Linked DNA regions of Homo sapiens. The protein of the gene in region 2 interacts with the protein of the main gene of each other region in a pairwise test. Each region holds a gene or a part of one and is shown on either strand. Other genes may lie near its edges.

Region 1 (4,609 bases), on a different chromosome or scaffold from region 2:
AAAAAAAAACCTAGCCAGGCATAGTGGTGCATGCTTGTAGTCCTAGCTACTCGGGAGGCTGAGGCAAGAGGATGGCTTGAACTCAGGAGTTTGAGGCTGCAGTGAGCTATGAACACACCACTGCACTCTAGCCTGAGTGAGACAGCAAGAGACCCTGTCTCTTAAAAAACAAACAAACAAACAAAAAACTTCCAGGGAAAAAAGCAAGGCTCAGAAATGTCCTACCCTGCATGCTCTTGTCCAAGCATAAAGGCGGACACTGTGGGTGCAGAAGGTGGATATTATGTATCTTGTCAGTATACAAACACTATTAAACAATAATCAGGGACACAGGAAAAAGTTTGTGAGTTCCTTTCCCTTGTTCAGTGGTTAATGCATACTAAGTTGGTTTAATTTAAAAAAAAAAAAGAGGTTTAACAGTATAAGGGAAACCACCAGAAGTACAAAAGCCACAGTATCACCATCAAAACCAGAAAGCCTGAGGATGAAGAAGGAAAGATGTGTATATCTGATACAGGTTTCATAATTGATAGTCAAAAGATATCATCCAAATTTATTAGATCACTAGATATTAAAACAAACAAGACAAAAAGGAAGACAAATTCATTAAAAACAGGACATTTCTCCCAGCTATTTGGGAGGCTGTGGTGGGAAGATCAATTGAGCCGGTAGGTAGAGACTTCAGTGAGCCGTGATCCTACTGCACTCTAGTGAGGGCAACAGAGTGAGACCCTGTCTCAAAAACAAAAACAAATGACATTTCTCTTAAAAAATTTTTGTTTCGTTTTTTTGAGACAGAGTCTCATCCCGTCATCCAGGCTGGAGTGCAGTGGCCTGATCTTGGCTCACTGCAACCTCCGCCTCCCGGGTTCAAGCCATTCTCCTGCCTCAGCCACCTGAGTAGCTGGGATTACAGGCCCGCACCACCACACTCGGCTAATTTTTAGTAGAGACAGGGCTTCACCATGTTGGCCAGGCTGGTCTCAAACTCCTGACCTCAACTGATCCACCCACCTCGGCCTCCCAAAGTACTGGGATTACAGGCGTGAGCCACTGTACCCAGCCCAACATTTCTTTTGCTCATGAATCTGCAGACTGGGCAGACTGTTTCTCAGCTCAGCTTATGTTGGCTCCCCTCAGTGTCAACTAGGATTGCTTGAAGGCTGGGGCTGGAAATGTTTAAATCTTATCCACATGTCTGTGCCTGGGCTGGGAAGACTCATGCAGCTGGGGTTGGAGCAGGTGGGCCTCCTGGGTATCCCTCTCTCTACGTGAAACACTGTACGCAGCCTCTCCAGTATGGTGGCTTCAGGGTAGCCAATTAAGATATGGTTTTACAATCTATTAAACTGGTAAATGTGATGCCCAAGGCTGGCAAGGATAGATCTATTGTTGGCAAGGGTAAGCTGACTAAACCACTTGGGAGGGCAATTTGGCAATACACACCAAAATGTTAAATTCCGTTTGCTCTAATAATTCTACTGCTAGGAATTTACCTTTCAGATATAAACAAAAGTGTACCGAAATATTTTGTATGAAAATGTCCACTGCAGCACTGAATATACCAGCAAAAAATCTGAACACTCAAGTGTCCATCAGCAGGGACTATGCAGTGAAACAGTGGTTCAAACCTCACCATCACCCTGCTGATGTAGGACACCTTCAGCTATGGCCTGCACTACTGAAGCACCTCCCAGCTCACGGCTCACACCTGCTGGGGTCCTCTTCTGATCACTTCTCCTGTGCAACCAGTGCAACCTGGACTGCCTTTCACACCCACCCCATCACAATTAAGATCCACCAGGGCGTCCCAAACTCCTACCAAACTCCATGTGCTACGCTCCTCCAACCTGGGCCTGCACTGGGCCCCAGCCTCCCCGCTGGCCTTCCTGCTGCCTCTCCCTCTGCCACTTCTAGCCACAGGGTCTTAGCTCAGACTGTTTCCTCTGCCTGCCTTACTCTATTTCTCCTCTCCTCCTCTTGCCCTCAGAGAAGGCCTCTGGTTTTCTTAACCTGGTCAGGGAAGATTCTACCTCCCCCTACCCTGCCCCTTTCATACTTCTAACAGCTGCCATTTTACTTTGTACATTACTGACATTTGTCTTCCCCCACCGAATCATTGAGTTTTACGATAGCAGAGGCTGTATCTACACCGTCCTGGCACCTTGTAGTACCTAGTACATAACAGACACACAGAAACTACTGGGTGAAGTGGGGGCACACTGCACAGGAAACAATGAGACAGATCTGCACATTCTGACATGGGAAGGCTCCTAAGTGGAAACAGAAGGTACAGGGCGGAGTGAAAGCTTTGCTACCTTTTGCTTAATTAAAGCAATTATCTCATCAAAACAGCTGCTTTATACTGGGCCATTATGGCTATGCAGGACAGTAACCCCATCAAACTGCCCTGAGTACAACAGAAAAAGCCCACAGACAGGGCTTGGTTCAGCCACGGCATGATTCAGGGACTCGTTTATGCCACCAGGGTGTGGCGCTCTCTCCCCACTGTCAGACAGTTCTCTTCTCCAAGGGCGGGGCCTACAACAGCTCCCGCTCCAGGTTCAAGATGCAGGAGGAACAAGAAAAGCCTCTTTCAGGGCCTAGTACCCTAGTACGGTAGATCACACAGGCCTCACCCTGGAGAGGGCATGGCCTGGAGGGTGGGGGGACTGCAGGGCAAATGTCCCATCCAAAGCAGAGAACTGAGAATGCAGAGGGTGTGGTTCTTTCGAGGGAAATGTGAGCAGCTACCAAATTAAGGGGAAACAGATGCTGTGAGGCCAAAACAAACATACATCACCATAAGTACATTTACATAAGTAAATGTACTTTTTTTTGGTGGATGGGCAGGGAGGGGGATGTGGGGGCACAAATTGTTAACAGCAGCTTCCACTGGGACAAGCTACCACCGGCGGCAAGAGAGGGATACACTTTTCACTTTGTACCATTCTTTAACACTGACATTTTCTAACCATGTAATGTGCTACTTTTAATTTATTAAAATCACAATTGAGGGTTTTTCCCAAAGAATTTTAGTTCTTAGAAATGACATCTGTATATAAATGTTCTAACTCTTATTCACAGTAGGCTCTAACATGAACGGCAAAATCAGACATCAACAGTAGCACATCATGTTACTCTATACGAAAGCACAGATTTAGGCACTTTATCAAAGAAAAATGTTTAGAAACAAATGAGGTTATTGAGTCGTCTGTCACACTCTGCAAAGGACTCTGATTCCCTACTTAAATCCTTTAAAACTGTCACATTAAATGGAACATATAACCCCTCGACACCAGCAGTACTCTTTCCTAAATAAGGAAACAAAACAGAACCCCTAACTTTACAGACCACATAAAACCTGACAGACACCAAGAGTTCTCTTACTGATGAGTAAGATTCAAGTCAAAGAAATTCAAAACTACTTAGGATTTCAAGTGACATATTTTCTATTCTCCGCATTTCCTGCATAGATTTTGGATTTACACACCCTGGCTTCCTGGCTACAGACATCTGAGTTCACAAAGCATATTTTACCTTTAACATAATGAAAATGATGTATATGGCATGAAGAGTTTACTCAATTAAGTCAAGAGTTTTAAAGTCTTCTCTGATCAGAATTTGCTATCTGATCAGAGCAGGCCACCCAATCACAGCAGGTGCTTGGAGGGGAGTGGAATCTCAGTAGAGTTGATGACTCACCAAGTGTAAATGGGAAAAAGCAACACAGTCACATTTCCATGTAAGGAGATTTTATAGTAAACATGAATTTGTCAGTGTCCAGTATTAATTAGAAAACATCTGTCTTCTTACTTGAAGCCTATTAAGCAGTAATTCTTTGACCACAAACTGGTCATGTGGCAGACCCTTTCTAGAAGACACTAGAATGTCATCCGGTGTGCAGTTGCCTGAGACCACTCCCACCCCAGGAGCTGGGCAAAGAGCTCTCCACGTCCACCTGTCCCCCCACAGCGCGTCACTGCTGCCCCATCACAGGTCTTCTCTTTTATTCCCAGCTCGATTTTCTTCCTTGGAAGACCGAGATTTCAGATCTCCTTCCTTCTTTTTTTTGCCCTTGTCTTGCTTTGTTTTATTTTTCTCTTTGCTTCCTCCTCCTTTGCCGGGGTACACCTGGCCCTCCAGAGTTACATCAGCACACCTGTCTTGACCGACCAAAAAGTCCTTGATCTCCCAGGCGTAGCTCCCATCGCGAAGCATGAAGATAGCACGGTCTGATCCCACAATGAACCTTGGGCAGAGAGATGCAATCAGTCAGCCAGCACGTACTAGTAAGGTGCTAAGGGGTCAGAGCAATTCTCTGGCACTTATCAGTTTATTTCAAATTCTACATGAATATGGAATGAAAAATTGGATTTTCCAAAGCCTAGCAGCTACTGATATCTCATGTATTAAAATACTAGCTTGCTGAACTATTAAACATCCAGCTCAGATCAAAATAGAAACAGACACTGGATGTTCCTTTGTTGTATAAATGGATGCCCGTGTTAAAAGTGAACATTTGGAAAACCTCCCTAGGACACTGCAGAGGTGGCTCAGGGGCTGCTGCTGGGGAGGTAAAGAGGCAGCTTCGATCTGATCTGTATCT
Region 2 (3,092 bases):
CTGTCCTCACAGCCACCAATTTTTTTTTTTTGAGGCGGAGTCTCGCTCTTGTCACCCAGGCTGGAGTGCAGTGGCTTGATCTCAGCTCACTGCAACCTCCGCCTCCTGGGTTCAAGCGATTCTCCTGTCTCAGCCTCCCTAGTAGCTGGGATTACAGGTGCGCACCACCAGGCCCAGCTAATTTTTGTATTTTTAGTAGAGACAGGGTTTCATCATGTTGGCCAGGCTGGTCTCGAACTCCTGACCTCAGGTGATCCGCCTGCTTCCGCCTCCCAAAGTGCCGGGATTACAGGCGTGAGCCACCGCGCCCCGCCTACAACCACCATTTGAAGTGGGTGCTGTCATGCTCCTCATTTTACAGGTTGGAGAGACCAAGGCCAGAGAGGGACAGTGACTTGTCCAAGGCCACACAGCTTGAAACTGGGAAGCTGGAATTTAAATCCCAGCCATCTGGCACCCAAATCCATCCTATTAACTACCAGGATATGCGCTTATAACGTGTCCTAGGGTAAGTGGTTGACATACAGTAGGTGCCTAATACATGATAATTATTGTTATTTTTAATTATAATTCTCCTAGAGGGTGCTTGGAGGGAGGGTGCGTCAGGGGAGAGGGAGGGCCATGGGGCTGTGTCTGCTCTCCGAGGTCCCAGCCAGCATCCAATCAGCTGGCTGGGGCGGGGGACGCTGGGGTCACTAGGGGTCCGCGCTGCTCTTGCTGCGCGGCGGCGGCGTGCGCGGGTCCCAGTCCTTAACCAGGCGCTGCGCCTGCTCGTAGCACACGTGCGGTTGCCGCTGGCGCAGGCGCAGGCGCACCACGTTGCCGTCCACCTCATGCCCGATGTTCTTGCAGTTGAGGCCCCAGCTGAGGTTCTTGTGCGTGGCGAGCAGCTCGTCCAGGTTCTTTTCCAGGTACGTGATGTGGCACTGCAGCTTGTCGGTGCCCTGGATAGGGAGCAGGGCAGACCCGTGAGCCAGAGCAGATGGCTACCTGGCGTGGGAAGGCACACCTGCGCCAGGTGTGTGTGTAAGGAACACAGCTGAGGAGGGGAACACATCTGAATGGGCCAGGTGTGCCTGGAAAAAAAAAAAACCGCGACAGGGCAGGCTGAGGGAGGGGAATGCATCTAGTCAAGATGTGTAGGAAGGATCCTCCTTAGGAAGGGTACTTAATAATAACAGCTCAGGGCCGGACGCGGTGGCTCACACCTGTAATCCCAGCACTTTGGGAGGCCGAGGCGGGCGGATCACCTGAGGTCAGGAGTTCAAGACTAGCCTGGCCAACATAGCAGAACTCTGTCTCTACTAAAAATACAAAAATTAGCCGGGTGTGGTGGCGCGCACCTGTAATCCCAGCTACTCAGGAGGCTGAGGCAGGAGAATCGCTTGAACCCGGGAGGTGAAGGTTGCAGTGAGCCAAGATTGCACCACTGCACTCCAGCCTGGGCGACAGAGCGAGAGTCTGTCTCAAATAATAATAACAATAATAGTTAATAATAACAGCTGGGCAGCTTTAAGGGTATTCTATGCAGGTGCCATGCTACACACCTTTCATGCATGAACTCATCTGTCCTCACCACCACCATTTGAAGTGGGTGCTGACGTGCTCCTCATTTTACAGGTTAGAGAGACTAAGGCCAGAGCTGGACAGTGAGGGTGTGTGTGAGGGGGGAGGACAGGGGTTGAGGGGACTTATTTGAGCCAGTACCCACTGAAGCCCCCGCCAGTACCCACTTCAGTACCCAGTGAAGCCCCCGCCTCCCCACTTCGTGGCAGGAGTTGAAGGACAGGCCGACTTGGGTGAGAGGGGGATCATACCTGGTCCAGATGTGCTTGAGGAAGGAGCCTTACCATTGGCGGGGCTGGGCCTAGAGGGGTACGGGGGAGGGGGTTTACCTGTGCGAGGCGCGCAGCCTCCGGGAGTTGGGTGCCCACGTGTCTCTGGTACATGCGAACCAGGGGTCTGTCCAGCTTTTCTGCGGTCTCCAGGTGAACTTTCGACAGAGGACCCTGGTGGGGTGCGGTGTGCAAGCGCATTGAAACCCAGCCTCCAGCCACCGGCACCCCTGCCTCCACCCCCGAAGGCTCTCACCCCGAACCGTACCTTGATGAGACCGTGGGTGGTGTACAACTCTTGGTTATATTTCGTACACCGGAGGATAGTTCCCCTCATCAGTCCTAACGTCATATTTAATCTTTCCTGGGGGCAGGGAAGCGCAGGGGGATCACGCTGGCTCCCAGTCCGCGTCTCCTCCCCTGTCCCACCCTGGCCCGCAGCCGCAGGTAATGCGCTCACCTTCAGCTCCAAGGTCTCGCTCGCCTTCTGCGCCAGCGAGGCACACACACGGTCGCTTATCTGCAGCTGTTGCTCCCGGACGTCCACCTCGTTCTTTGCCATTTCTACCAAGGTGTCCTTGGACTCGACCAACAACCGCTTGGCTTCGTTTAGCGCCAAGGCGCACGCTGCAAATGCCCAGGATGCGCGTGGGGGTGCCAAGTCCTCCGTTCCCAGAGCCCCTGTCCCTCTCTCTATTCTCAGGTGGTGGTGGGCCCTGGGCGAGGGGGTTTTATTGAGGAACTGGGTGAAAGTCCAGGGGGCGCGGGGGATAGTGTAAGAAGCGTCTTGGGTTGGTTTCCTTAGAAGCAGAGCCTGTAACCTGTAATCCCAGCACTTTGGGAGGCTGAGGCGGGTGGATCACCTGAGGTCAGGAGTTCGAGACCAGCCTGGCCAACATGGTGAAACACCCGCCTCTACTAAAAATACAAAAATTAGCCGGGCGTGGTGGTGGGCGCCTGTAATCCCAGCTGCTCAGGAGGCCGAGGCAGGAGAATCACTTGAACCTGGGAGGCGGAGGTTGCAGTGAGCTGAGATCAGGCCATTGCACTCCAGCCTGGGTGACAGAGCAAGACTCCATCTCAAAGGAAAAAAAAAAAAAGCAGAGCCTGTGAATGACTGAGTCCTCAGCGAGTGTGGGCAGGAGAGTGCAGGGGGAAAAGCTGAGTGACAATGTGTGCTCAGCATGATAGGCTTTCAGTCCTCCCATTGACTCTAGGGCTATTTCCCAGGAAAGGGACAGCTAAGTGGGCGACGGG
Region 3 (7,480 bases), on a different chromosome or scaffold from region 2:
AAGTCCCCCCCGTCACTGAACTGAATTGTCAACTCCAACTGTTAGGATTAATTTGGAAGAAATATTTGGAAACACTAACATGTGGCTTAACAGTGTCATATAAAGCACACACGTAGTGAAAGACAAAAGTATGCTAGATGTTGAAATTGTAGGCTCATCAAACACCGTGTATAAAATAGGCAACCAGTGTTCACATTACAAAAGAGAGTCCAGGGTTTTAGAAAGCATACCTGGGTTGGACTTCATGGTCTCAATGATCACATCTGTCATTTCTCGACGGCCGAGATGCTGATGGATAATCGCTACTTTCTCTCCTGGTGACTTGCCTTCTAAACAGGCTACAGCTGAGGCTAGTGTCGTCTTTTTTATCTCCTCATCAGACATTTCCCCGGCTAAAGAACACATGAATGATTAATACAAGGTAATAAAACAAGCTCCTCTCTGTTCTCTATTCCTCTATCATTAGGTTTTCCTTTTCTTTCTCCTGCCTTCCGCCAAGATGATAAGAAGCCTTTGTAGTATCCATCTCACTCAACTCTGGGACCACTGCAGTACACAGCAAAGAGTCAATAAGCAGCCAGGACAATATACTCAGAAATGCAGGGCTGTTCTACTGAAATCATGCACTTTATTTTTATTTTTTGAGACAGAGTCTCACTCTGTCACCCAGGCTGGAGTGCAGTGGTGTGATCTTGGCTCACTGCAACCTCCACCTCCCAGGTTCAAGTGATTCTCCTGCCCCAGCCTCCCGAGTAGCTGGGATTACAGGCACGTGCCACCACGCCCAGCTAATTTTTGTACTTTCAGTAGAGATGGGGCTTCACCATGTTGGACAGGCTGGTCTCGAACTCCTGGCCTCAAAGTGATCCACCCGCCTTGACCTCCCAAAGCGCTGGAATTACAGGTTTGAGCCACTGCGCCTGGCCCAAAATCATGCACTTTAAAGCAAATCGCCAAAGAGGGAGCCTTAGAGAAGATGCAACAGTGATCATGCCCAGATGAGCTAACATTTTAGTAACACCTGATAAAATGAAATTGTGTTCAGCCCAAAATGAAGCTATCAAGTCCATTAAAAAAACAAAATTTCAAAAACTTGTAGGGGTAGTCTTAAACATCCTGGCTTATGCTCATGCCATGAACCAAGCCATGAACATCTGTGATTACTGTCTTAAATCAATGAAACACATGAAAAGGGAAACGGAATTTGGAGACTTAACTGAAATATCCCTAATACATGCTCTGTCAGGGCAGGGACAAGGCCTGTTTTGCCCACCACTGTATTCCCAGCCCTTATACCACAGTGCCGAGCACACAGAGGAAGCCCTCTAAATGTTTGATGAATAAATGACTACATGACTGACCCATGCAGATGTCTATATGCGGCTAATATCAATTTAGCTGACTCTCAGAACTCAGAAGCCACTTTTAGCCTTTGGAAAGGTGCTCATAAGCTATAAAGTCATATTCAATCTTTAATTTGCAGCTTCAAAGGTCACGTCCTCAGGAAGTTCCCAATGACACCATCCCTACCTGCCCCCATCCCTCTCTCCAAACCAAACACATCTTCTTGTAATACTTTCCCAAATTGTTTCTCCTTTCCTTCACAGCACTTACCACAGTTGTAATTCTACACATATTCTGCACTTATTTAATTCATCTGTTTCCTCCATGATACTGCTGGTGCCATTAAAACAGAGACGCTGTCTGATTCAGCACACAAGGAAGGCTCCAGCAGATATGAGCATAAGTTTTTTTTTTGTTTTTTTTTTTGAAATGGACTTTATCTCTTGTCGCCCAGGCTGGAGTGCAGTGCCACAATCTTGGCTCACCGCAACCTCCACCTCCCGGGTTCAAGCGATTCTCCTGCCTCAGCCTCCCCAGTAGCTGGGATTACAGGCACCTGTCACCACGCCCAGCTAATTTTTGTATTTTTAGTACAGACAGGGTTTCACCATGTTGGCCAGGCTGGTCTTGAACTCTCAACCTCAGGTGACCCGCCCGCCTCGGCCTCCCAAAGTGTGAGGATTACAGGCGTGAGCCACCGCGCCCGGCCAAGTATTTCTTGAATGAATGTTAGTTAATTATCTGAGGACCAAGGAACAGAGCCAGAGCTGCATTCCCCACTAAGGAGCTTCCTCACTTGTGTTAATGGTGTAAAAAGCTCAGACTCAAGTCCAGCTCACTGAGTTAGAATCCCAGTTTCACCCATTACAGATAACCTTGGGCAAATCAATTAATCACTAAGCTTCAGTTTCCCAATGTGTAAGAGGTACATGTCACATCCATCTGCCTCTTAGGGCTGTTGCAAAGATAATTAAAGAATACAATACACAAAAGGTGCTTAGTACAGTGCTGGGATATAGGAAGTGTCCAAATTTTAGTTATGACTATGGTTAGGGGGCACTTCAATGGATATCGTTCCAAAAGGGAACAATTTAATTAACCCAGGGACCGTCCAGCGTTGCTGGGGACCCAGTCCCTGCCTTTACGAAGCCCATAGGGAAGCAAGTGAGACAAACACACCACTCGACTATCTCGAGAGGGAGACGCGCCAGGTATAAACTAAATGCCCTCAGACGGCACAGGGAGGGAGGTTCGGGGCAGGGCTTCCCTGAGATAACAAACGGGAAGGCCTCTCAAAGGCGGATGGGAAAGAGAGGGATCCCGATTACCTCTCCGTGTCTTCCTGGGCAACAGCCCTCGCCGCGGGCTTTTCCCGGGCCAGTGCTTTGGGAAGGGAAGCCCTCCGGGCCCAGACCCGGCTACAGGGAATGCGGCGAGGCCGCGGGACTCACCCGCGGCGCTGAAGCCGAAGCCGGCGGGGACAGGCGAGTGTTCCGCGAGCTCCAATCGGATAACAACCAGTGACACACTCATAGGGCAGGCGCTGGCCGGCGCGGGCCCCGGCGGGCTCAGGCGAGGCTGGAAGGCGAGCCGAGAGGCCGAGCGGCCCGGGGCCGGCAGCGCCGCCACCACCTCAATGCAGTTGCCGCCGCCTCAGCAGCAGCAGCTCCTCGAACAGCCCTCGGAGCCACAACAACCTCCACTTCCGCCTCCCGGCCGCCGTCGCTGACCTGCGGTTTACGCATGCGCGCAGGACCGCGCACAGCGATTGGGCGGCGTGGCAGGGGTCACCCACTGCTCTTCCGGACGCAATTTTGAGGAGGTCGGAGCGGAAGGACGTCGTGGAGATTGCTTGCGCTGGGGTGCCACACTTAGGCTGAGCTGCAGGTTTTCGCACAGTCGCGAGTTAACCTCTGCTTGCTCCAGAGGCCTCGTCCTAATCCACCTCGGCTGACGGCGCGGGATCCCTGGCTCCGCGAGGTCTCCGAATTGTCCGAGCTATCTGCTATGCAGAACTTTGCCCCTTTTGTTGTGTTTGACTCCTGTCTCTAACCCTAGTCTGGATGGTTTTGTTTCTGTCCCACTTTACAGATAGGTACAACGAGGCTCAGAGAGGTGAAGTTCCTTCTAAGGGGCCGTAGAGAGTGGAGAGTCGATCGCTGTTCAGATAGCGATCTGGCTGGGCGCGGTGGCTCACGCCTGTAATCCCAGCCCAGAGGCTTAGGCGGGCGAATCACCTCAGGTCAGCAGTTCGAGACCAACCTGGCCAACATGGTGAAACCTCGTCTCTACTGAACATACAAAAAATTAGCCGGGCTTGGTGGCGCGCGTCTGTAGTCCAAGCTACTTGGGAGGCTGAGACAGGAGAATCGCTTGAACCCGGGAGGCGGAGGTTGCAGTGAGTCGAGATAGTGCTAGTGCACTCCCGCCTGGGCAACAAGAGCGAAACTCCGTCTCAAAAAAAAGAGAGAAAAGATGGTGATCTGCTGGTTACGAGCATAGTGCTGCAGTTAGACCGGGGTCCTCCTCCCCACCCTGTCACTTCACAAATGTTTACTGAGAGTCTAGACACCCTTGGGATGCTTGAGATACGTTGGCGTATAAGATAAACACAGTTCCTGTCCGTACTATGAGGTTGACCTACATCAGCAGTTGTGCAGTCTTGAACTAGTATAGTCATTGCATAAAGTTGGCATGATATCATGTCCTCATGCAGTTGTGAGGATGAAATGGAATTATGTATATGGAGATAACATTAGCTTTTCTGAGGCTCAGCATTCTTTCCAGTATGTCAGAGTGGCTTTTGTATGTAGATACTGACACAATCAATGCATATGGGACACATACATGACAGGATGCTACTCTAGGTACATTGTATAATGATACATATGTAAGTACATAGTACATTCTAGATGTGTGTGTGTGTGGACATAGTGCGTTCTAGATGTGTGTGTATCTGGACTATGACATGACCACAAGATACATGCGTATATAGATCTTGTGACTACATCCTATGAAATACGTTTCCATATGCCCTGTTTAAATCAGGGTTTCTCAACTCTGCACTATTAACATTTTGGGTCCTGATTATTCTTTTTTGTTTTTGGCAAGGGGGCGGGGTGTCCTGAGCATTGTAGAGTGTTTAGAAACATCCCTGGCCTGACCCACTAGATGTCAGTAGCACCTCTCCCCAGGTGGTGACAACCAATAATGTCTCTGGACCTTTCCAGATGTCTCCTTGGGGTTAGAAAACATAACCCTGTTGAAGAATCACAGGGTTATGTGAAAGTGCATAAACCATACACACATACTGTATGCATAAAACCTATGAGACCTCTTGTGAACTTTTTTAGTATATTACTATAGTAGATAACATTTCAACATGTGCCAGGTACTAATTTGAGTGTTTCATATACCTTGTGTCATGCAATGGTCACAACAACTTTATGAAACTGGTACTATGTCCCTGTTCTACAGAGGAGTAACCTGAGGCTTGGAGGAAGAGTAACTGGCTCAGGATTTCACAGGTAGTAGTGGCAGAGCTGGAACTGAAATTCAGGCAATCTGAATCCAGAACGAACATTCTTTATCTCTTTACCAAACAAACCTTTTTTTTTTTTTGTATTTTGAGACGGAGTCTCACTCTGTCGCCCAGGCTGGAGTGCAGTGGTGCCATCTCGGCTCACTGCAACCTCGGCTTCCTGGGTTCAAGCTTCCTGCCTCAGTCTCCCAAGTAGCTGGGACTACAGGCACACAGCACTGCACCCAGCTGATTTTTGTATTTTTTTTTAGAGATAGGGTTTCACCATGTTGGTCAGACTTGTCTCGAACTCCTGACCTTGTGATCCGCCCACTTCGGCCTCCCAAAGTGCTGGGATGACAGGCGTGAGCCACCGCGCCCGGCCCCCCCAAAGGCATTTTTCGTCTCTACTAAGCCCTCACACAAAATATACAAGTGTGTAAGTAAATTTCTCTTTCTATCATAAACATTGGCCTTGGCATAGGAACGTTAAGTAAAACTGAAAATGCAAATGAACCTTGACATTTTTAGTTTCAAATATTGCCCCCAAATTCAGCAAATTTCCAATTACTGTCGTTGCATGGTGGTATCCTCAGCAGATGGGTGCAGGACCCCCTGCAGATGCCAAAATCTGTGGATGCTCAAGTTCCTGATATACAATGGTGTAGCATTTGTTTATAACCTATGTACACCCTCCTATATGCTTTAACCCATTTCCCATTTAGAAAAAAAAAGTACTTGACTTGGTGTGGTGGCTCACGCCTGCAATCCCAGCACTTTGGGAGGCCGAGGCCGGTGGATCACTTGAGGTCAGGAGTTCGAGACCAGCCTGGCCAACATGGTTAACACCCGTCTCCACTATAAAAATACAAAAAATTAGCTGGATGTGGTGGCGAGCGCCTGTAGTCTCAGCTACTCGGGAGGCTGAGGCAAGAGAATAGCTTGAACCTGGGAGGCGGTTGCAGTGAGCCGAGATCACACCATTGCACTCCAGCCTGGGCGACAGAGCAAGACTCCGTCTCAAAACAAAACAAAAAAAAGAAAGCAAAAAAAGTGCAGCTCGCTGCCAGCACAGTATTCTCAGGGCAAGCAAGATATGAGTTAAGTAATCCCTAGATTGCTTATAATACTGGCTGGGCACGATGGCTCACGCCTGTAATCCCAGCACTTAGGGAGGCCAAGGTGGGTGGATAATGAGGTCAAGAGATCGAGACCATTCTGGCCAACATGGTGAAATCCTGTCTCCAGTAAAAACACAAAAATTAGCCAGGCGTGGTGGCACGCACCTGTAATCCCAGCTACTCGGGAGGCTGAGGCAGGAGAATCGCTTGAACCCAGGAGGTGGAGGTTGCAGTGAGCTCTGATCATGCCACCGCATTCCAGCCTGGTGACAGAGGGAGACTCCATATCAAAAAATATATATATTTAATATATATATCAAATCATATCCATATCAAAATATATAAATATATATACATGCATATATATGTATGTATACCTAAAACAGTGTAAGTACTGTGTAAATAAATAGTTGTTAACCTGTATTTTTTGTTTGCATTTTTTATTGTTGTGTTGTTATTTTTGTTGGTTTTTGTTTGTTTTTGAGATGGAGTCTCACTCTATAACCCCGGCTGGAATGTGGAGTGCAGTGGTGCAATCTTGGTTCACTGCAACCTCCACTTCCCTGGTTCAAGTGATTCTCATGTCCCAGCCTCCCGAGTATCTGGGATTACAGGTGTGCGCCACCACGCCTGGCTAATTTTTTTTCTGTGTTTTTAGTAGAGACGGGGCTTCACAATGTTGACCAGGTTGGTCTCGAACTCTCGACCTCAGGTGATCCGCCTACATTAGCATCCCAAAGTTCTGGGATTACAGGCGTCAGTTACTGTGCCCTTACTGTGTGTGTTTGTTTTGTTTTGTTTTACTTCAAATATTTTCTTCTTTTTTTTTTTTTGAGATGGAGTCTCACTCTGTTGCCCAGGCTGGAGTCCAGTGGCACCATCTCGGCTCACTGCAAGCTCCGCCTCCCCAGTTCACACCATTCTCCTGCCTCAGCCTCTTGAGTAGCTGGGACTACAGGTGCCCACCACCACGCCCGGCTAATTTTTTGTATTTTTAGTAGAGATGGGGTTTCACCGTGTTAGCCAGGATGGTCTCAATCTCCTGACTTTGTGATCCGCCCGCCTCGGCCTCCCAGAGTGCTGGGATTACAGGCGTGAGCCACTGCACCCGGCCTTACTTCGAATATTTTCTATTGTAGTTGGCTGAATCTGCAGATGTGGAACTCACAAATACAGAGGGCTGACTATAGATGAGAAACACATTATATTCAAGATTTACCACTTAAGAGTCCTTTCTCTAGGTGCTTATAGAGGTTGAGTATCCCTTGTCCCAAATGTTTGGAACCAGAAGTAGTTCAGATTTTGGATTTTGATATATCTGCGTATATATAATGAGATATCTTGGGGTTGGGACCCAAGGCTAAACATGAAATTCACTTATATATATATGTTTCATATATATCTTATACACCTAGCCTGATGGTAATTTTATACAATATTTTAAATAATTTTGTGCATGAAACAAAGTTTGTGTTAAGTACTTACGTGTGGAATT
Region 4 (7,870 bases), on a different chromosome or scaffold from region 2:
CACAGGGCTACCCAGGAAGGACAGCAAGAGATGGTGACAGTCAGCAGGGTCCATGTGTCCTCGGGTAAGGAGCCTGTTTGGTTCCCATCTTGATGCCTATCTTGGCCTGGGACCCTCCCTCTGTTGACCTGACGCCATCTCCTTAAACCAAAGCTCTACCTCCAGGAGATATCAGAAGAGGAAATCAGGGAAATAGAAACACCCATGGTCCCAGGGACTTCCCATAGCTGACAGAAGGGGCAGGGAAGGGCTGAGTCCCATGTTTTTGGTAAGTGCTGTCCCGTCAGCCCCCACCTTGATTCTGGTCATGGCCTGGGACCCTCCCACTGCTGACCTAAGTGCAGCCCTCTCAGACCAATGTCTCCCGCTCCCTGAGACCAATGATCCCAGTATAAGAGAGGGGTCTCAGCACATAGTCCTGCACATGCTCTCTGGGGAGACAGCAGGGGCAGAGCAGATTTCTAAGCAGCCCTCTGTGTTCTGGCCAGGAGGAACCCTCAATCCTCCCTCAGGTTTCTCACCTGGACTCTTGGCAGATCCTGGGACCACTGTAGTTGTGGACCATATGGGGCTCTTTCTGTTGACTGGAAGTCGTCCTCTGAGAACATAGTGCTCACCTGCCCAAGATTCCAAAACAGAAGTAAGGGGCCCCACGTCCCATCACCCCATCATGTGGTTGTCCAGGGCTGACAGCAGAGGCTGGACCCTTCGGTTCTGGGGATTCCAAAGTCCTCCTGTGGGTTTTTCATCTTTACTTCTGCCAGGGCCTGTCCTTCCTTGACTCCCAACCCCTGAGATGAGCAGACATATCCCTTTACACCAAGACCTCATCTCCCTGAAGGTTTCCCAACTTTCTGCCTGTGGTACAAGTGACCTTGCCACTTGGGGCCACCCGTGATGAGGTCCCCACACAGCCAAGGACAGGGGACAGAGAGACTCTGTGGGATCCCTTCATTATGGGATGTGGGTATCTCCAGTCCTCACCAAGGGGACACATACACCTTGAGTCCTAAAGATCCTGGGACTCCTCCCTCTGCTGATCAGGTGTGGCTCCACCTGCTGACCTGTCATCACCCCCTTGAAACAAGGTGCTCACCTCCCTGAGCAAGGTGCCACCCCCAACCTCGTGGCAGAAATGTGAGCATGGCACATGCCTCCCCAACTTGGGCCTCCGAGGGATGAAAACAGAGGAAGCAAGGATTGGTGAGGTCCCTTTTTCTTTGGCATGTGGGAGGGTACATTCTTACCTTCAGTCTTCATCAATTTTCCTCTCCTTGACTACTGGCAGATCCTGGACTCCACCCTGTGCTGACCAGGTGTGTATCCCTCTGCTGACCTGAGGACCTGCCTCAGACCAAGGGCCCCACCTCTCTGAGATATGGGAGGCAGAAAGTGAAGGGGCACTACATGGACACCCCTCATGGGATGCCAAAGGCTGACAGATGAAGCAGATTTCAGGGGTGCCTCCTCTCTCTGGGTTTCCTCCAGGTATTCAGATTTACTCCTGACAAGGCCTATCCATGTCTCTCCTGCTGAACTGTGGATGAGTTTTGCAGGCCACGACCACCATCTCCCAGAGAACCCCAACTAGGAAGTGGGGAGCTGCCTCTCTTTCCTAGAGTCCTGCTTGGGGCCTCCAAGGACCGATGGCAGGGGCAGGTTTTCTACCTCAGGGATAATTGGTTGCCTGAGTCCTCCCTCTGGGACTCCTCCCTGGGTTGACCTGAGGCTCCACTCCTCAGACCACAACCCACTCCTTGCTGACACCCCAAAGGCAGAGTGAGGATGCACCACATGTGGCCACCGTGCCTTGGAACTCCAAGGGCCAAGGTCCCTACTGACCTGGAGTCCAAAGTCTCCTGAGTCCTCCCTCTTCTTCTTCCTCTTGATGCTGGCAGGGCTGCACCCCAGACCCCCTCTGCGGAACTGAGTCTCCATCCCTCAGATTCCCAAGGCTGAATGAAAAGGCACCTCAGTTTGAGACGGCGGGACTATGGGGGGGGGCTGTTCTGGGGTGCTGGGTCCCTTCAGTTGTCCCTCAGGCCTTGCTCACCTCCCAGCAGGGACTGAGCCCTGTCTGTGCTCCCCCTAGGTCTTTCTCATGATACCAAGCCCCTTCCCTCTGTCAGCCCAGGATGCGGAAATCAGGATCCACTTGCCTGGCAGCAATGCCAGGAACTTCCCAGGACTGACAGCAGAGAGGGAGCCTTGCTCTGTGGGGCCTCAGCCCTCCCTCGGGGTCCTGACCTTGATGCCTGGCAGAACCTGGGTCCTGCCCCCCCCAACCAGCCCTGCCCTGGTCACACCAAGCTCTGACCCCACAGTCCCCTGAGGCTTAAGCGGCGGGGGGCAGAAGCCGAGGGGGGTGTCAGAGGGGACGGCCCAGCCTGAGAAGTCCATCCCCATGGGGTGATCCAGGGCTGGCAGCAGAGGCGGTGCTGGATTATCTGGGGTCCTCTATCTGGGTAGGGAGCATCCTCAGTCCTCCCTCAGCATCTCATCTTGCCTCCTCACAGAGCCTGGGCCCGCTGCCCTCAGCAGGTCACAAGCCGCCCTTCAGAACCGGGCTATCACTTCTCTCTGACCCCCTAATGTGCAACTCCGCAGTACCAAGCCCGGAGGTCCTTTGCGTTGTCTGCAGGGACAAGGATGGACTTTGTGGCCCCTCTATCAGGATGGGGTGGAACCTCTCCATAATTTCTCAGAGTCCTGATGTTGATGCCTGGAAAGGCCGGGGCCCCACCCTTTATGGAACTGCCTCTGCCCGGGTCACACCATAGACTCGCAGAGTCTCCTTGGGCATTGAGGAGGGGGATTGTCTCAGCCTGATAATTTGGTCCCCTGTTGTTTCAGGGCTGGCTCCAGGGTTGGCGCTGGATTATTTGGGGCCCTCTATCTGGGTAGGAGGACTCCTCAGTCCTCCCTCAGCTCTCACCTTGCCTCCTCATGGAGCCTGGACCCGCTGCCCTCTGCCACTCTCAAGACACCCCTCAGAAAGACGCTTTCGCTTCTCTCAGATCCCAGAGGCGGAAGCCAATGGAGGTCACATCCGGCCCCCACGCCTGGAGCTTCCCTGGATTTACAGCAGGAGCGAACCCGATTCTGCCCGTGTGGGGGCGGGGCGAGGCGAGGCGGGGCGGGGCGAGGCGAGGCGGGGCGGGGCGGGGTGGGGCAGGGGGAAAAGTAGTGGCGAGGGGTGCAGATGTGGTCGAGGGTCATGGGGGTGCCTCAGTCCTCCCTCAGGTTTCTGACCTTGATTCCTTGCAGAGCCTGGAGCTCCGTCCTCTGCCAATGATGTCTGCTCCTCTCGGACCAAGTCTCTGACTCTGAGTCCCCTGAGGTGGCAGTGAGCGGGAGGTGTGAGGTCGGGGGACAACATTGCCAAGGTCTTCCGGGGCTGACAGGAGGGACCGAGCTGGATTCTGTGGCCCCTCTATGTGGGGAGGGTGGACCGTCAGTCCTCACTCAGGAGGGTCCTCCTCTTGGCTACTGGTTCTTTCATGAAGTGATGGGTGGGAGATGCTCTGTTTCTGTCACCTCTGAGCATTGCCCAACTGCACCCCTTGCAGACAATAGCTGCGGATCCCAGGCTAGGTGCTTCCATGTGGCTTCAGTACCCGTGATTGTAGTGACCTCTGGGAGAAGATGCACACCTTCCTACGGGGGCTCCTCCCCAGCCAGATCTAGACTTTGCAAACTTTTGCCCTGAAAGCTTTATTTTTACACTGAAGAGGCTGAGTGGCTGCAAGAAATTTGCGGAAGTCCTGCGTTTAGAATTTATCTAACACTTCATAGTTCATTTTAGTGATTTTCATTTTTTAATTCTCATTCAGTGTCAAAAATCATACTTAACCTAACTGCCTATTTCACTCTAATGGTCAATACTCTAATTTAATCCATTCTTTATCTTCAATTAAAACGATAATTTTTAAAAAGCCAATCTTTATTTACTGACGTGGTTTTAGTGGTTATCAGCACAAATTCCAGCCGTATTCCTTTAATCAACCAGTGTTTCCTCATGTCCTGAAGTTACCCCATGACTACTGGCACCTGTGGTCTGAGACCCTACCCGAGTTTTCCACAGTGAAGTAGGGGCAGAATTTTAAACATTTCTTTCTTCCTATCCACCCCAACTTCCCTGCCACTCTTCCCCGCCAATCACAAGTATTCCTTCAAAATACAATGAAATTCTCAGGGCTCTCTCATGTTTTTTTTGTTTAGATTTCTTTTTTGATATTGTTTGCTTGTTCCTTTATTTATTTATTTTTATTCTTTAGTTTTCCCGGGTTGTTTTGGGGAGTCTAAGATAGAAGCCCAAGACTGAACGCGGTGGTTCACACCTGTAATCCAAACACTTTGGTAGGCCAAGGCAGGAGGATCACTTGAGCCCAGTAGCTCAAGATTAATCTGAACTACATAACAAGACCCCATCTCAAAAAAAAAAGAAAGAAAGAAAAAGAAAAAGAAAAAAGAAATGAAAAATTAGCTGGGTGTGGTGGCGTGTGACTGCAGTCCCAGCTGGTAGGGAGGCTAAGGTGGGAGGATCACTGGAGCCCAGGATGTCAGTGCTGCAGTGAGCTGTGTTCACACCACTGCACTCCAGCCTTGGAAATAGAGTGAGGTCCTGTCTCAAAAAAACAAAACCAAACCAAACAATCAAAAACCAACAGATGCCTGAGCTTGACAGTCATCTTGGCTGGTTAAGGAATTACGTCTGTCAATTTTTGAAAAAATAGAATTGCCATCTTTGCAATATTCTGTTCCCTATCAATGATATCATATACTGCCTTGTTTATTTGGGTGCTCTTTGAACTGGATATATCAGTACTTGTATAGTTGCCTCAGTAAAAATCATACATGCTTTTGTTAGTCTTCTTGTTAGGTAATTTTTGGATATTGTTGCTATTGTGAATGGGGTATTTTCTATGACCTGTTCTTAATAGTTATTGTCTGTTTTGCAAATCTTTTGATTTTGCTTTATTGATCTTCTGTTCGCTATTTTTCACACGTCTCTTATTCATTTGACTATTTCAAGTGTGCATTTTTTTGAATTTTCTAGATAGACTGTTGCATTACCCTACCAAATATCACTCTTTCTTTCCAATACACATACCTCTTATTTATTTTGGTATCCATATCTGTGGCTTTGTATTCCAATACAACTTTGAAAAATAGCAATGATAGCATACATTTATGACCTGTGCCTGACATGAATGCGTCCAACATTTTACAATTAAGTATATTTGCTATCAATTTGATGAAACAAAATTTCCTTCTACTCTTAATTTTCTAGTTATTTTTATCATGGATGATTACTAATTTTTTCAAAATATTTTTCTGTATCCATTAATATGATCATATGTTTTGCCTCTATAATCTTGTTAATATAGGGAATCACACTGAAGGTATATTTTAATGTCAAATTGTATTTTCATTCTTTGGATATATCCCGTTTTTCCATTTAGTACACTGCCCTAATGAATTGGCTATTAATTTATTTAGGATATTTGTTGCTATGTGAGTAACTTTGGTTTAAGTGTTCTTTTCATGGTGAGGTCCTCTTCTGGTATTTGAAACAAAGAACACTAGTCTCAGAAAATGAGTTCCACAGTTGCCCATCTTTTTGTATGGTTTTTAAGAGTTTGCTTAGGATGGCAATGAGTTCTAATTATTTGGTAAAACTGGCCTCTGAAACTTTCTTTTCCTGGATCATTTGTGGGTGGCTTGAACTGAGAATACAGTTTTAGTTTGTAATGTTTGATTAAAGTTTTCTGTTTCTTTATGGACCAATTTGATCTTTTTTTTTTTTTTTCGAGACAGAGTCTCGCTCAGTCGCCCAGGCTGGAGTGCAATGGCACAATCTCAGCTCACTGCAACCTCCTCCTCCCAGGTTCAAGCAATTCTCCTGCCTCAGCCTCCTGAGTAGCTAGGATTTCAGGTGTGCGCTACCACACCCGGCTAATTTTTGTATTTTTAGTAGAGACGGGGTTTCACCATATTGTCCAGACGGGTCTCGAACTCCTGACCTCGTGATCCACCTGTCTCGGCCTTCCAAAGTGCTGGGATTGCAGGCGTGAGCCACTGCGCCGGGCCATTTTTTTTTTTTTATAAAATATAGTTCATTTCACTTAGGATTTCAAATTTAATGGCATGATATTATGATGAAATAACTTTATTAAAGTGTCAGACATGTAAAATAGTATAGTATAATATACCCAATATACTTGATATTCAGCATCAAAAATCTTCAATCCATTACTAATCTGTTTCCAACTATACTTCTACCTACCCCACGTCTCAAATGCTGGAATAATGTAAACCAACTCAGTAACCTTGGATAGAATACTGGATCCAATAAGCCAGTTCATGGTACAGTGCAGCTGACCTGGCTCTGAGACAGCCTATGGCTCAGAGAAAAGGGTCTGGCTTCAATAGACCAGCCTCCCTAGACCCCTACCTCCTACTCTCTGTTCCAGGGTCCTGAGGTACTGCACGCCTTTGTTCTCTTCTAGACACATGCTCCTATAATACTGCTAGCTAATACTGCTTTCCAGACACCCTTGGGTCTCTCTCCAAATATCTTCTCTGTGAGGCCTTCTATGAATAACCTTTCTTTTTCTTCATAGAATTTGTGTCTTTATTATTTATTTTTGTAATTTCACTTTCATTTTAGATTCAGGGGGTACGTGTGCAACTTTGTTACATGGGTATATTGTGAGATGCTGAGATTTGTGATATTATTGATCCCGTCACTCAAGTAGTGAGCATAGTACCCAATAGTTGGATCCTGACCTTTCATCATATACAAAAATTAATTCGACATGGATTAAAGATTGAAATGTAAGACCTCAAACTACAAGAATCCTAGAAGAAAACCTAGGAAACACCATTCTGGATATCACCCTCGGGAAATAATTTATGACTATGTTCTCAAAAGCTATTGCAACTAAAACAAAAATTGACAAGTTAACCTAATTAAACTCAAAAGCTTCTGCTCAGCAAAAGAAACTATCCACAGAGTAAGCAGACAACCTGCAGAATGGAAGAAAATATTCCCCAACTACGCATCTGACAAAGGTCTAATATTCAGAATCTATAAGGTGCTTAAACAATTGAACAAACAAAAACAAATAACCTCATTAAAAAGTGAATACCCTTTCTAAAATTGCAATCCTCCCTCTTAACTCATCCCAAACACTTATTCAGTTCTCTAGATTCAATTTGTTTCCATAGTATTTATCACCATGTCAACCAAAATTAAGACTGGTTAGGCAAAAATAAGAGGATAAATGTTTATTGGAAGCCAAATGTGAGGACTGACCTGGGAGGAGAAACCAACAAAGTTGGGAGTGTTCTGGAGAGTCTTACAAGTTGGAAGGGTTTTATGAGAGTTTAGAACAAGAGAGAACTTTTTATATGGCAGTTGTCGTTTTTTATTAGAGGATACAATACGGAGGTTAGAATCATTGTACCAAATTGCAACATACAGACTAAAATGTCCATGTGCAAAACAACCAGTAAAATTTCATGATTTAAAAATAAATCAGCAAACTTTTCAATGTTGGTACATTACATATTAATCCATATGTAAACAATTTGTGGAATGCAGGATAAGACACTTTACTGAGGGACAGGATGGCAACAGAAATCACAAGACCTCCCCCAGGTGAGTTCATTTGGAAGCCTACCAAAGGTGATTTGGAAGTTAACCATTAAATCTACTGCACCTTTAAGTTTGTTTCATGATTTATTGTGTGCCTACCCTTTACCTCACTAGAATGTAAGTTCCACCTAGGGAGGAAATGTGTTCAATATTGTATCCTCAGAGCCCAGGACAGTGCCTGGCACACAATACATGCTCAGTATTCAT

What was found.
Region 1: the proteins of TEKTL1 (region 2) and MESD interact in binary tests that used the Homo sapiens proteins (3 or more experiments, as listed by UniProt).
Region 3: the proteins of TEKTL1 (region 2) and BRAP interact in a two-hybrid assay, tested with the Homo sapiens proteins (one study listed by BioGRID and IntAct).
Region 4: the proteins of TEKTL1 (region 2) and MAGEA11 interact in binary tests that used the Homo sapiens proteins (3 or more experiments, as listed by UniProt).

The regions. Positions count from the first base shown.
Region 1 is NC_000015.10:80,975,226-80,979,834, forward strand, and holds the end of MESD (LRP chaperone MESD precursor), read right to left. Parts: intron 4,253-4,609; coding exon 3,994-4,252; 3' UTR 527-3,993; downstream 1-526. UniProt on the Homo sapiens protein: Chaperone specifically assisting the folding of beta-propeller/EGF modules within the family of low-density lipoprotein receptors (LDLRs).
Region 2 is NC_000019.10:15,020,723-15,023,814, reverse strand, and holds the end of TEKTL1 (tektin-like protein 1), read right to left. Parts: intron 2,463-3,092; coding exon 2,296-2,462; intron 2,200-2,295; coding exon 2,104-2,199; intron 2,010-2,103; coding exon 1,896-2,009; intron 945-1,895; coding exon 696-944; 3' UTR 539-695; downstream 1-538. UniProt on the Homo sapiens protein: Microtubule inner protein (MIP) part of the dynein-decorated doublet microtubules (DMTs) in sperm flagellar axoneme, which is required for motile flagellum beating.
Region 3 is NC_000012.12:111,682,916-111,690,395, forward strand, and holds the start of BRAP (BRCA1-associated protein), read right to left. Parts: upstream 3,042-7,480; 5' UTR 2,878-3,041; coding exon 2,796-2,877; coding exon of another isoform or gene 2,673-2,795; intron 393-2,672; coding exon 231-392; intron 1-230. UniProt on the Homo sapiens protein: Negatively regulates MAP kinase activation by limiting the formation of Raf/MEK complexes probably by inactivation of the KSR1 scaffold protein.
Region 4 is NC_000023.11:149,707,228-149,715,097, reverse strand, and holds the start of MAGEA11 (melanoma-associated antigen 11), read right to left. Parts: upstream 3,039-7,870; 5' UTR 2,936-3,038; intron 1,956-2,935; 5' UTR 1,939-1,955; coding exon 1,843-1,938; intron 1,829-1,842; exon of another isoform or gene 1,072-1,828; coding exon of another isoform or gene 1,000-1,071; intron 618-999; coding exon 522-617; intron 1-521. UniProt on the Homo sapiens protein: Acts as androgen receptor coregulator that increases androgen receptor activity by modulating the receptors interdomain interaction. May play a role in embryonal development and tumor transformation or aspects of tumor progression.